Linked DNA regions of Homo sapiens: region 2 is linked to region 1. The links come from fine-mapping of genetic effects on gene expression. A gene starts in region 1. The other region holds a variant in brackets. All regions are shown on one strand. Distances are from middle to middle.

What was found. PIP is the estimated chance that this variant, and not a neighbour inherited with it, causes the effect.
Region 2: its variant is fine-mapped to the expression of CFAP61-AS1 in prefrontal cortex (CommonMind, PIP 0.95).

Annotation. Positions count from the first base shown.
Region 1 is chr20:20,264,643-20,270,015 of GRCh38, forward strand. CFAP61-AS1 (CFAP61 antisense RNA 1) reads right to left here and starts at 3,195. Exons shown (of 4, transcript NR_183979.1): 1 at 2,852-3,195. All of the region lies in intron 21 of CFAP61 (cilia and flagella associated protein 61), which reads left to right. RefSeq lists an enhancer at 2,424-2,924.
Region 2 is chr20:20,365,162-20,370,534 of GRCh38, forward strand. INSM1 (INSM transcriptional repressor 1) reads left to right here and starts at 2,943. Exons shown (of 1, transcript NM_002196.3): 1 at 2,943-5,373. The coding sequence starts at 3,107. The coding sequence ends at 4,639. RefSeq lists an enhancer at 2,036-2,806. The variant C/T (reference allele first, on the strand shown) is at 3,157.

The DNA.
Region 1 (5,373 bases):
TCACTCTGGGGGGCCAAGGTGAGAGGATCACTTGAGCCCAGGAGTTTGAGACCAGCCTGGGAAACACGGGAAAACCCCACCTCTACAAAAAATACAAAAATTAGCTGGGCATGGTGGTGTACACCTGTAGTCCCAGCTACCTGGGAGGCTGAGGTGGGAGGATCAATTGAGCTTGGGAGGTCAAGGCTGCAGAGAGGCATGATTATGCCACTGCACTCCAGCCTGGGTGACAGAGCAAGACCTTATCTTAAAAATTTTTTTTCTTTTAGACTTTGCAGGCCATATGGTCTCTGTTGCAACTCTTCAACTCTGCTCATTTAGTGAGCAAGCAACTATAGACAATATGTAAATGAATGGGCAGGTTTGTGTTCTGATAAAATTTATTTATTAAACCAGACATGAGCTGTAGTTTGTAGTAACCAGCTTTTAGCCATAACATTTTTGACAAATCATTACCATTTCATGAAGTCCAGACCTCCAAATGTACCATAAGTTCCCCAAAAGCAGAAAAGCCAGTGGTTCAAGACAAAATGCACAGTTCATCTTTAAGACTGCACCCAATCCTGTCAGCCTGCAGTGCTGTGCTTTAACTTTGAACCTTTGTGTGTTTTGGTTGTTTGGGCTAGGGAGCATTTGACCAAGAAAAGAGCCTTCGAAAGTGGCACTGCAAGGTCTTAAGGTGGAATATTGATAGCAGAGAATTTAGAAACCCCAAAGCAAGAAGCGCTGTAGTCTCTTTCATGTGCCTTTGTATTGTCCTCTTGGTTCTCAGATGGAGGAAGAGCATCAGTGTTATTCTGCTGACTTGCCCAGTTGTCAGGGATGGTGATGCTGTGGTGCCCCCTTAAAGGGAAATGTTTTTTCAAGATTTAAGACTGACTCCCAGCAGCCAGTGCATAAAGCCATTTGGAGTGCCTGCTTTTGTCCACCAAATAGCCAGGATAAGAAGTATGTGGAAATTAGTTTCCTGTCTTACATGTAGGTGATTTTCTCCAGGTCTGGTGCTTAATGACTCCCCCAGGCACCTCTCAGGTAGGTGCTCTTAACACTGAAATGCTAGGACCAAGCTCTGGGAGCCTTCAGGGAAACCTGACCTGGCCAAGTTCATTTAACTCTGTGTAGAGGCCCTTTTCAAGTAAATTCTCAAGTAAAAAAAGTTAAGAAAAAATGTTAACATCTTGCCTTAAAAAAACTTTCTCCTCTTTGTATCTTTTCTGTAATCCAGGTCATACTCAGACATAACTTTAGTCCCATTCAGACCTTATTCTTGCCATTATTATTCTTGCAGCATCACTGGATCACAGTCCAAATCTCAGAGCAGAGGAGGCCTAGGACAGAAAGCCCGTCCCCACCTGAGCCAAGAACCAACAACCACAGACAGAATTATACCCACAGAGGCTCCCAGGAAATGCAGCAAAGAGTAGGATCCAGTGTGAGAGGAGGCCTCGAGGTAGAGCCTCCTAAATAAACCATTGGCTTCTCTGGCAGGCTGAAATACATTTAGCTGGGAGGGCATTCCATATAGAAATACAAATTCATGCCAAATCACTTCAGTCACCTTGTGACCTCTATTTCTTAACTGAGACTTTGGGTATATGATACTTGAGTTTCATTGCTGGGCTTTCAAATCCCTTTTCATACTGCAGAAAGCCTAGTGATCTTTCCAGAACTGCATTTTGAAAAGAATATAGCTGTTGCAGCATTGCTTCTGAGACATCTACAGTACCATACTTGGCTGAAGCTCCAAGCCATTTCTTTGATAATTTCAGCTCTACTCTATCTCAGTGTCACTTGTATCCAGCATAGTGCCTGGCACATAGTAAATGCAAAATAAATGTTTTACTGAATGTAAGTGAAGACAGTTCAGGATGTAACTCTTTTCCTTACCTCCCACATGGTGAGTTTTATCAAAACTTTTTGCATTCGGCCTACCTGGAAATAGATGGTCAATTGAGATGAAGACAAGAGAACCCTTGAATGAAATTGAAGCTATTCTTTAAAAATTCATCCTTAGTAATGAGAGTAATAACATGCTGGCTACACAGGATGAGTTAAGCTCCTCCTCACGAATAACAGACATTTATAAAGTCAGTCTAGCTCAGGTTCTGGAGTCACGTGACTTGGGTTCAAATCTTGGGTCTGCCGTTTCCCTGGGCAAGTTACTTAACTGCTTTGTGTCTCAGATTCTAGATAATATCTACCTCACATGGGTTGCTGAGAGGGTGAAAAGAGATAAATGAGATTACATGCCATACTCAGGACAGTCTCTCATACATAGAAAGAGTTTCATAGAGGCTGCCATTAGCATTGCTCTTACTTCTATGTGTGATGGAATTAAAGGTACCCTAGAGTAGAAGTCTCAGCCCTTGCCACCAGGGCCCTGATGAAGTTGAGGATATCAGTCTCTATTTAAAGACAGGGATCCGTGTACACCAGGTGCCAGTCAGCTATAGAGGCACTGTGGCCTTCAGGAGAGCCCTGGAGGCTGTGAAGTTTGGAGAAGGCCTCCCCGAGAAAGGAGGATTTGAGCTCAGTCTTGAAGAGGGACAGGATAAGAAGAGAGAGAGGCTGGGGGAGTTTGGATTGTGTCCAAAAGACACTGGGCCAACAACGTGGGCTGGGCAGAGTCTGTGAAGGGCAGCAGCAGGAGATGAAGCCAGAGGCATGGGCAGGGACAGACACTGGCGGGCCGCAAGCACCCAGCCACGTCCAAGTTTAACTGGTTACCTTTTAGGGATGGGAGCTGACCAGGCGGGTGCCGCTGTACACACATAGCACTTTGGGAAAATGGCCTTTCCATCTGTAGTACCCATGCCAGCAGAGAGAAGGTGACCACGGGAGAATGGCTTACCATGGATGGCAGTAGCCAATAGGGGCGAGGCAGCTGTGGATGCAGGAGCTAGCTGGAAGTGGCCACCCTTGCTGCATGTGGTGGTCTTGCTGACACAGCCACTGCTAGCTTATTTCCAAGTCAGCGATGAGATGGTGGTGTTGCAGGGCTTTTCCGTAGTTCAGCTAAAGATGGGGTCCTTGTCCGTCCCGTGGCCACGAAAACGTAGCCTCGCAGACGGTTTGAAGGGTGAGTTAAACAGGGTTTTACTGGGTGAAAGGAAAAAAATGGGGTGGAGGAGGGGGAAGCAGGATCCTCCGCAAGGCAAGCCGGCTACTTGATTCCCAGGTTCCACACAGGAAGAGGAGGGGCCAGGCTCCTCCCCACTGCAGATGGCATGCATTTCCGGAGGCTCCACCCCAATGTGCAGGCTGGTTGGAGTTTTTCTAGGGACTCCCTCCCACCTGCCTGTCTCATTGGCATTTGAAGCCAGAAGCTAGAAGTCTGGCACATGATGGAAAGCAAGGAGCAGGGCTGTGCTTATGCACGTTTGAAAAGTCGCATGGAGCCATCCGTGACCGTCCTGGACATTTCAGTCCTTGCTTTTTCTTCATGTCACCCTAATAACACCAGGAGGAATGTGGACAGTTTTCATCATAGTTTATTTTTACTCCCTCAGTGCTAATTTCCCCTTTTTTAAATACTTTAGCATGTGAGTTGGGGCAAGGGAGCCAAGGACAGTGAAAAATAGTTTCATCGTGTCCCACTGGCTGTGGTTGGGTGACATGTCCCTCCGGGAACCACACCCTGAATCCTAACAAACACCAGTGCTGATGTTACTGAAGCCCAGGGATGTGAGGGGAGAATGGTGGATGGATTGTTCTAGAACAGTGGATATTGGGCATCAAGAACAAGAGATACTCCCAGGAGGAAGTCGGCTCTCCTTTGAACTTCTACCCATTGCAGACGCACACAGATACCACCCCAGAGAGTAGCTCCTTCCCACAGTCACTGTTGTATTTCACATCTTCTGCTTCCAAAGGAGAACACAGTGGTTCTGTGATGGAATTAGTCCATCCAGAGGACATGGTTTTCCGGGCTCTAGAGTTGGATGGATTTATAGAAGTAAATTACCCTAAACTATTAGAACTGCTCTAGTGCCATGGAGAAGAGCTGACATCACAGGCTCAAATGCTGCTTTCAACTGCAAACAAAACCTGGAGTGTTCTGCTGGGGGGTTTCTGATAGAACCCAGCAACCCGATACATTATAACAATTTATGGCACTAATTGAAACTAATTGAAATTCATCTGCTATTACCTCTGTACTTTCCATGAAAATGAAAAGTAGGATGAAAGTAAAGTAAAAAAAATAAACTACCTTAATGGCTCAAAATGGATCAATTATTTTCATCTTTAGCTAAATACAGTTTACTGCCTTATTAAAAGCATGTTTGTAGGAAAAGTATAACATTAAAATTCCACTGCATGCATCATCGAACAGAGGCTTTGTTATGTTATATCTAATATATTCTTCCCTTTTTATTCAGCAGAGCAGAACGGGACAGGTCACGTTTTGGGCATAGAAATCTTATGCTTTGGCTTCTAAAAAGTAAAAAGCGCATTGTCTGGTTCTATTCGTGGGCTATATATATATATATATATATATATATATACACACACACACACACACATACATATATGTATATACACACACATATATACATATATGTATATATACACATATATACATATATGTATATATATACACGTATATGTGCATATATACATATATATTTCATTAAAATACAAAAGAATAGGTAAATATGCATAGACATAATTTAAAATATATAAACTATAAAATGTAACATACACATATATGTATATGTGTACATATATATATATACACACACATATATAGACAGAATCTTGCTCTGCCATCCAGGCTGGAGTGCAGTGGTGCAATCTAGGCTCACTGCAACCTCTGCCTCTCAGGCTCAAGTGATTCTCCTGCCTCAGCCTCCTGAGAAGCTCAGATTACAGGCATGCACCACCATACCCGGCTAATTTTTGTATTTTTAGTAGAGATGGGGTTTCACCATGTTGGCCAGGCTGGACTCAAACTCCTAACCTCAAGTGATCCTCCCGCCTTCGCCTCCCGAAGTGCTGGGATTACAGGCATGAGCCACCACTCCTGGCCTGTTTTTTAATGAGTGTTTATTTCACAATTTATTAATAATCTGTGATTGCTACTTAAAAATATTTCATTATCTAGTTATTTGCTGAAGATATTTACCCATATAAAATGCCAGTTGGAGTATATTTTAGTAACGTGTTACATATCCATCTGCAAGTGTACTGCAGTGCTATGAGACCTGATTTTGAAATAGACTCACAGGGTTTGAGTCCTGGTGACCCACCTGCTTGCCATGTGACCTGACCTTGAGCTCAAGATTTAACCTCTCTGTACCTTATTTTCTGGATAAAATGATAAACCCTGTCTCACAGGCCTGTTGTGAGGATGAATGAGTCATATGTAACCAC
Region 2 (5,373 bases), 100 kb after region 1:
TCACCTGAAGCCGGGGAAGGCCCCTTGGGTGCTCTGCCTTGGATCCTTATGTTCACTGACTTTCGCGAAGCCCCCCTGGAGGGGGGCAAATCCGCGCTGTTTCCCCCAACTTAACTTCACGCGGCCCATTCTCCGAATCGCGTGCGCCAAGGCCGGCGTCGGGGGCGCACTGTGATGGCGCTTTGCTCTTCCCAGGCGAAGACAAATATCTCGACCCGATGTCCCCATGCATGCGGGTGCACAGGTTCTGAGAAAATCACGCAGAAGGCGGCTGCGATCCACGGCCCGGGCTGGGCTACACCTGCTTGGAGGTCGCTGGTGTGTGCGTGCGCGCGTGCGCAGCCTAACTCCTTCCAGCCCCGGGTGGTGAAATTAGTTTCCAATACTAGTACCTTTCAAGTTTCCATTTATTTTGACTGTACCCGTCTGAAAGCAGATTTCATTTACGCTAGCAAGACTGGAAGCCACAAATAAAGAAAAAGAAACGGATTCATTGAATCTCAGTATCTCAGTAGCGTTTAATAGATTCCCTTGGCTAAATTCAGAGCCCTGTTTGAATTCACTCACGCAGGAGTTGTTTTGTTTTTTTTGTTGGTAGAGGTGCCGGTTTCCCATCCCCACGGCTTATTTACAATTATGGGTGTTGTTATTTTTAAAGGATTCACAAGGTGACTAACTCTCTGTTATCTGTTGAATGGAAGGAGTGTTACATATGCAAGACCGAATGGGGCAGGCCGAGCCCCCGCCCTATGCTATTCTACAATCCAGATGGGATTCGTGATTAGAAAATAAAATTGGCCAAAGCTGTCTCGGAATCCTTTTCCCACTTCTAATTTCATCAGCACTATTAATCAGAGCTCAAAAGAGCAAGGAAATAACATCAGTTACTTTTAGATAGAAATATGTTTATAAATTTTAGATAAACTCATTTTAAGATTTCTAACTTTTGGGGAGACTAGCACTCACCACAGCATTTTTAAAACTAGGGTGAGACTTTTCAAAATATATTTCACTATATGCATTCTTCCCTTTTCAGTGTGTGAGTTAAAATATTACAAACATAAAATTATCAAATATCTTTCCCTTGATTAACCAACCTGATTAACCCCTTAATTAATTAAGCCTAACAACTGTCCCCATCACAACTTATGACTCATGTGGACTCTATTTTTACATGTTTAATTTCTACGCCAGGGTATTTTCAGAGGGAAAATCCAAAACAATTAAATACCTTCAGTGGAATTAAGCGTAAGTAAAACTCAGCAAAATCTGTCTGGTATACAAAGCTTTGCAGAAAAATGTTTCCTTCTCTTTCAATAAAGTGACATTTTCCTCACAGCATATGACATTTTATGTGGCTTGGCTATTTGTTCCCCAGTGTTGGACGATCAGGGCCACTACGCACTCGTGGGGTTCTCTGCCCTGTCCCCCGAAGATTCTGCCTTTTGTGTTTCCTCGGGGCTGGGCTGGACAGAGGATGGAGGCAGGCGGCCCAGTCTGGGTCCAAACGGAACGGCAGCGGAGGTGGGGGTGGGGGTGGGGGCGGGGGGAATCTTCGCTGTTGTCTCTTCCTGGTGGCACAGGGGAGGCGGCTTGTCCTCTCGGAGGCCTCAGCCTGCCTCAGAGTACAGATTGCCCCCCCTCCCCCCGTCCAGCACGCGTCTCTTTTGCGTCCAGATTGGCCGCGACCGGAGCTCAATAGCAGGAGGTTAATTTCCTTCACAAAGGTGAAGGGGGCACGGCTCCGTGGGGGCTGCGCCCAGACAGGCAGCCCCTTTATTTCGCAGCGCCTTGATTGGAGCCCTTGATTTAGCATCTGATGTCAACCGGCAAACAAAATGCCCGCTCGGAATGAAAATGCATGAGGCCGCGCGGGGAGGAGAAAGCCAACTTCACTGGGGCGCACGAGGCCGACCGCGCGTTTCGGGCTTCGGCCAACTCGACCCGGATTAACCGAGCCTTGGACCACGCGGAAGCTCCGGGCGGCCTGGGTCGGGCCCCGCCAAAGATGCCATTCCCAAGCCTCCAAGAACCCAAAAGTTCAGAAATTCACGTTCCTCTGGGAACCCAGCCCAGCCCGCCCGCGCTCCAATCCCGCGCTTTCGGGAGACTGAGAAGGCCGTGCCAATTCCTTCTCAAACTCGAAAGAAACCTTCTCTAGCCCCGTGGGCGCGCGGAGGCTGCGAGCACAAACATCGCCCTCGGCCACTGCCAGAAGGCCGGGCCCCCTGTCCACACTTGGAACCCCGGGGAACCCTTTTGCTTGGCCTCTTGGGTCCAGCGGCCCATCCGTCCAAGGTCCGGGCGGAGGCCGTCCGGACCCTGCTGCTCTCTCGGATTCTTGTTTATTTCCCAAACACCACGCGGAGCCACTGCGCCTCCGCAACGATCTCCCCCGCACCGCCCCGGCGCGCCCCCGCCCCCACCCAATCAGCGCGCACAACTTCCCCCTCGGCTCCGGCTCGCGGATTGAACCCTCCTGACATATTTGGGGCCATTCTTCTCCTTTGTTGCTATTTTGCTAGCGACCCGCGGGTAATCCCCGCGCGGGAGGGGGGCGTGCATTGTCGCGCTGATGGACGGGCCCATTTGGCGGCTCCGCGCCCCCCGGAGGAGAGACACAAAGCCCAGGCACGTGCGCCTCCCCATAGAGAAGCAGCAGACCGTGAAGGGAGGCGGGGCCGGGCGTGTGCCTGGACCGGGCGGGGCGGCGGCGCCGGGCGGGGCGACCAGGGGCGCGCGCGGGGGCCCCGCGCCCTCAGGTACATCTGCCGCACCTACCGGGCGACCCCCGAGTCCCGGCCCCCTTTTGGCCGCCCCATCGCCCTCCCACCCTGCCAGGCTGAGGAGCTGCGGACGCGCTGATTGGCTCCAGGGGAAGCGGGAGGCGAGAACAATGGCCCCCTCCCCCCGTTAAAAGGGAGCGGCTGCCGGGCCCGGGGACAGGGACGCGCGTGCAGGGCGCAGAGCTGGGCCGAGCCGTCGCCGGCGCCACGCGAGTCCCGCAGCCGCCGCGCCCGGGCAATGGGCCGGGGGCACTGAGGGCCGCCGGGGCCGAGCGCGGAGGGGGGACCGAGCCAGTGCCGTGCCCTCGGGCCGCGCCAACATGCCCCGCGGCTTCCTGGTGAAGCGCAGCAAGAAGTCCACGCCCGTTTC[C/T]TACCGGGTCCGCGGCGGCGAGGACGGCGACCGCGCACTGCTGCTCTCGCCCAGCTGCGGGGGCGCCCGCGCCGAGCCCCCGGCGCCGAGCCCGGTCCCCGGGCCGCTGCCGCCGCCGCCGCCCGCGGAGCGCGCCCATGCAGCGCTCGCCGCCGCGCTTGCCTGCGCGCCTGGGCCGCAGCCACCCCCGCAGGGCCCGCGGGCCGCGCACTTCGGCAACCCCGAGGCTGCGCACCCCGCGCCGCTCTACAGTCCCACGCGGCCCGTGAGCCGCGAGCACGAGAAGCACAAGTACTTCGAACGCAGCTTCAACCTGGGCTCGCCGGTCTCGGCCGAGTCCTTCCCCACGCCCGCCGCGCTGCTCGGAGGGGGCGGCGGCGGCGGCGCGAGCGGAGCTGGCGGAGGCGGCACCTGCGGCGGCGACCCGCTGCTCTTCGCGCCCGCCGAGCTCAAGATGGGCACGGCGTTCTCGGCTGGCGCCGAGGCGGCCCGCGGCCCGGGCCCCGGCCCCCCACTGCCCCCTGCCGCCGCCCTGCGGCCCCCGGGAAAGCGGCCCCCGCCCCCTACCGCCGCGGAGCCGCCCGCCAAGGCAGTCAAGGCCCCGGGCGCCAAGAAGCCCAAGGCCATCCGCAAGCTGCACTTCGAGGACGAGGTGACCACGTCGCCCGTGCTGGGGCTCAAGATCAAGGAGGGCCCGGTGGAGGCGCCGCGGGGCCGCGCGGGGGGCGCGGCGCGGCCGCTGGGCGAGTTCATCTGCCAGCTGTGCAAGGAGGAGTACGCCGACCCGTTCGCGCTGGCGCAGCACAAATGCTCGCGCATCGTGCGTGTGGAGTACCGCTGTCCCGAGTGCGCCAAGGTCTTCAGCTGCCCGGCCAACCTGGCCTCGCACCGCCGCTGGCACAAACCGCGGCCCGCGCCCGCCGCCGCCCGCGCGCCGGAGCCAGAAGCAGCAGCCAGGGCTGAGGCGCGGGAGGCACCCGGCGGCGGCAGCGACCGGGACACGCCGAGCCCCGGCGGCGTGTCCGAGTCGGGCTCCGAGGACGGGCTCTACGAGTGCCATCACTGCGCCAAGAAGTTCCGCCGCCAGGCCTACCTACGCAAGCACCTGCTGGCGCACCACCAGGCGCTGCAGGCCAAGGGCGCGCCGCTAGCGCCCCCGGCCGAGGACCTACTGGCCTTGTACCCCGGGCCCGACGAGAAGGCGCCCCAGGAGGCGGCCGGCGACGGCGAGGGGGCCGGCGTGCTGGGCCTGAGTGCGTCCGCCGAGTGCCACCTGTGCCCAGTGTGCGGAGAGTCGTTCGCCAGCAAGGGCGCTCAGGAGCGCCACCTGCGCCTGCTGCACGCCGCCCAGGTGTTCCCCTGCAAGTACTGCCCGGCCACCTTCTACAGCTCGCCCGGCCTTACGCGGCACATCAACAAGTGCCACCCATCCGAAAACAGACAGGTGATCCTCCTGCAGGTGCCCGTGCGCCCGGCCTGCTAGAGCGCGCCCTCCACCCCGGCCCCCGAACTGTGCCTTCGCTTGGAGACCCACAAAGAGAGTGCGCCCTGCACTCCCCGAACCCGAGTCCGCGCTGGGGGAGCCTCGCCCCCGCCCCCACCGGGTGAAAGTGTCGTCTCCGCTTCTCTCGGTGTGGCGTGACGGTAACCCCATACTCTCCTTTTGACTCCTTTTGGAACCCCCACTTTTACGTTGTGTCCCTCCGCCTCCCCCATGGCGCAACAGGAGTCAGTCTCTTTCTGTACAAGGGAGAAAAGCTGTACGCGTTTGTCTCGTGGTTGGAAGCCTCCCCTTGGCGGGGAGAAGCTTTTTTTCTTGCTAGTATTCGCTGTGTTCATGGTCTAGAAATGCGGTCTGGTCTCGCCTCGCCTACCAATCTCTGCTCTCTATGTATGTAGCGTACGGGTTGTTTTGGGTGAATCTTGAGGAATAAATGCCTTTATATTTCACAGGCTGTAAATTGAACTTCCCACACGATTAGCTTTATTATGGCTTGTGAACTGCTGGAGTCTGGCTTTACCTTTTTGTATGTGAACAAATCAAATTGCTTAAAAAAGAGTTTTCTTTAGTATAGCCACAAATGCCTTGAACTGTTGTCTGGGATTGTTTTGTGGGGGGAGGGAAGGGAGTGTTCCGAAGATGCTGTAGTAACTGCCTCAGTGTTTCACGTAAGACTTTTTGGTTTGATCATCTTTGTTGAGGTAGGACTATCAGTT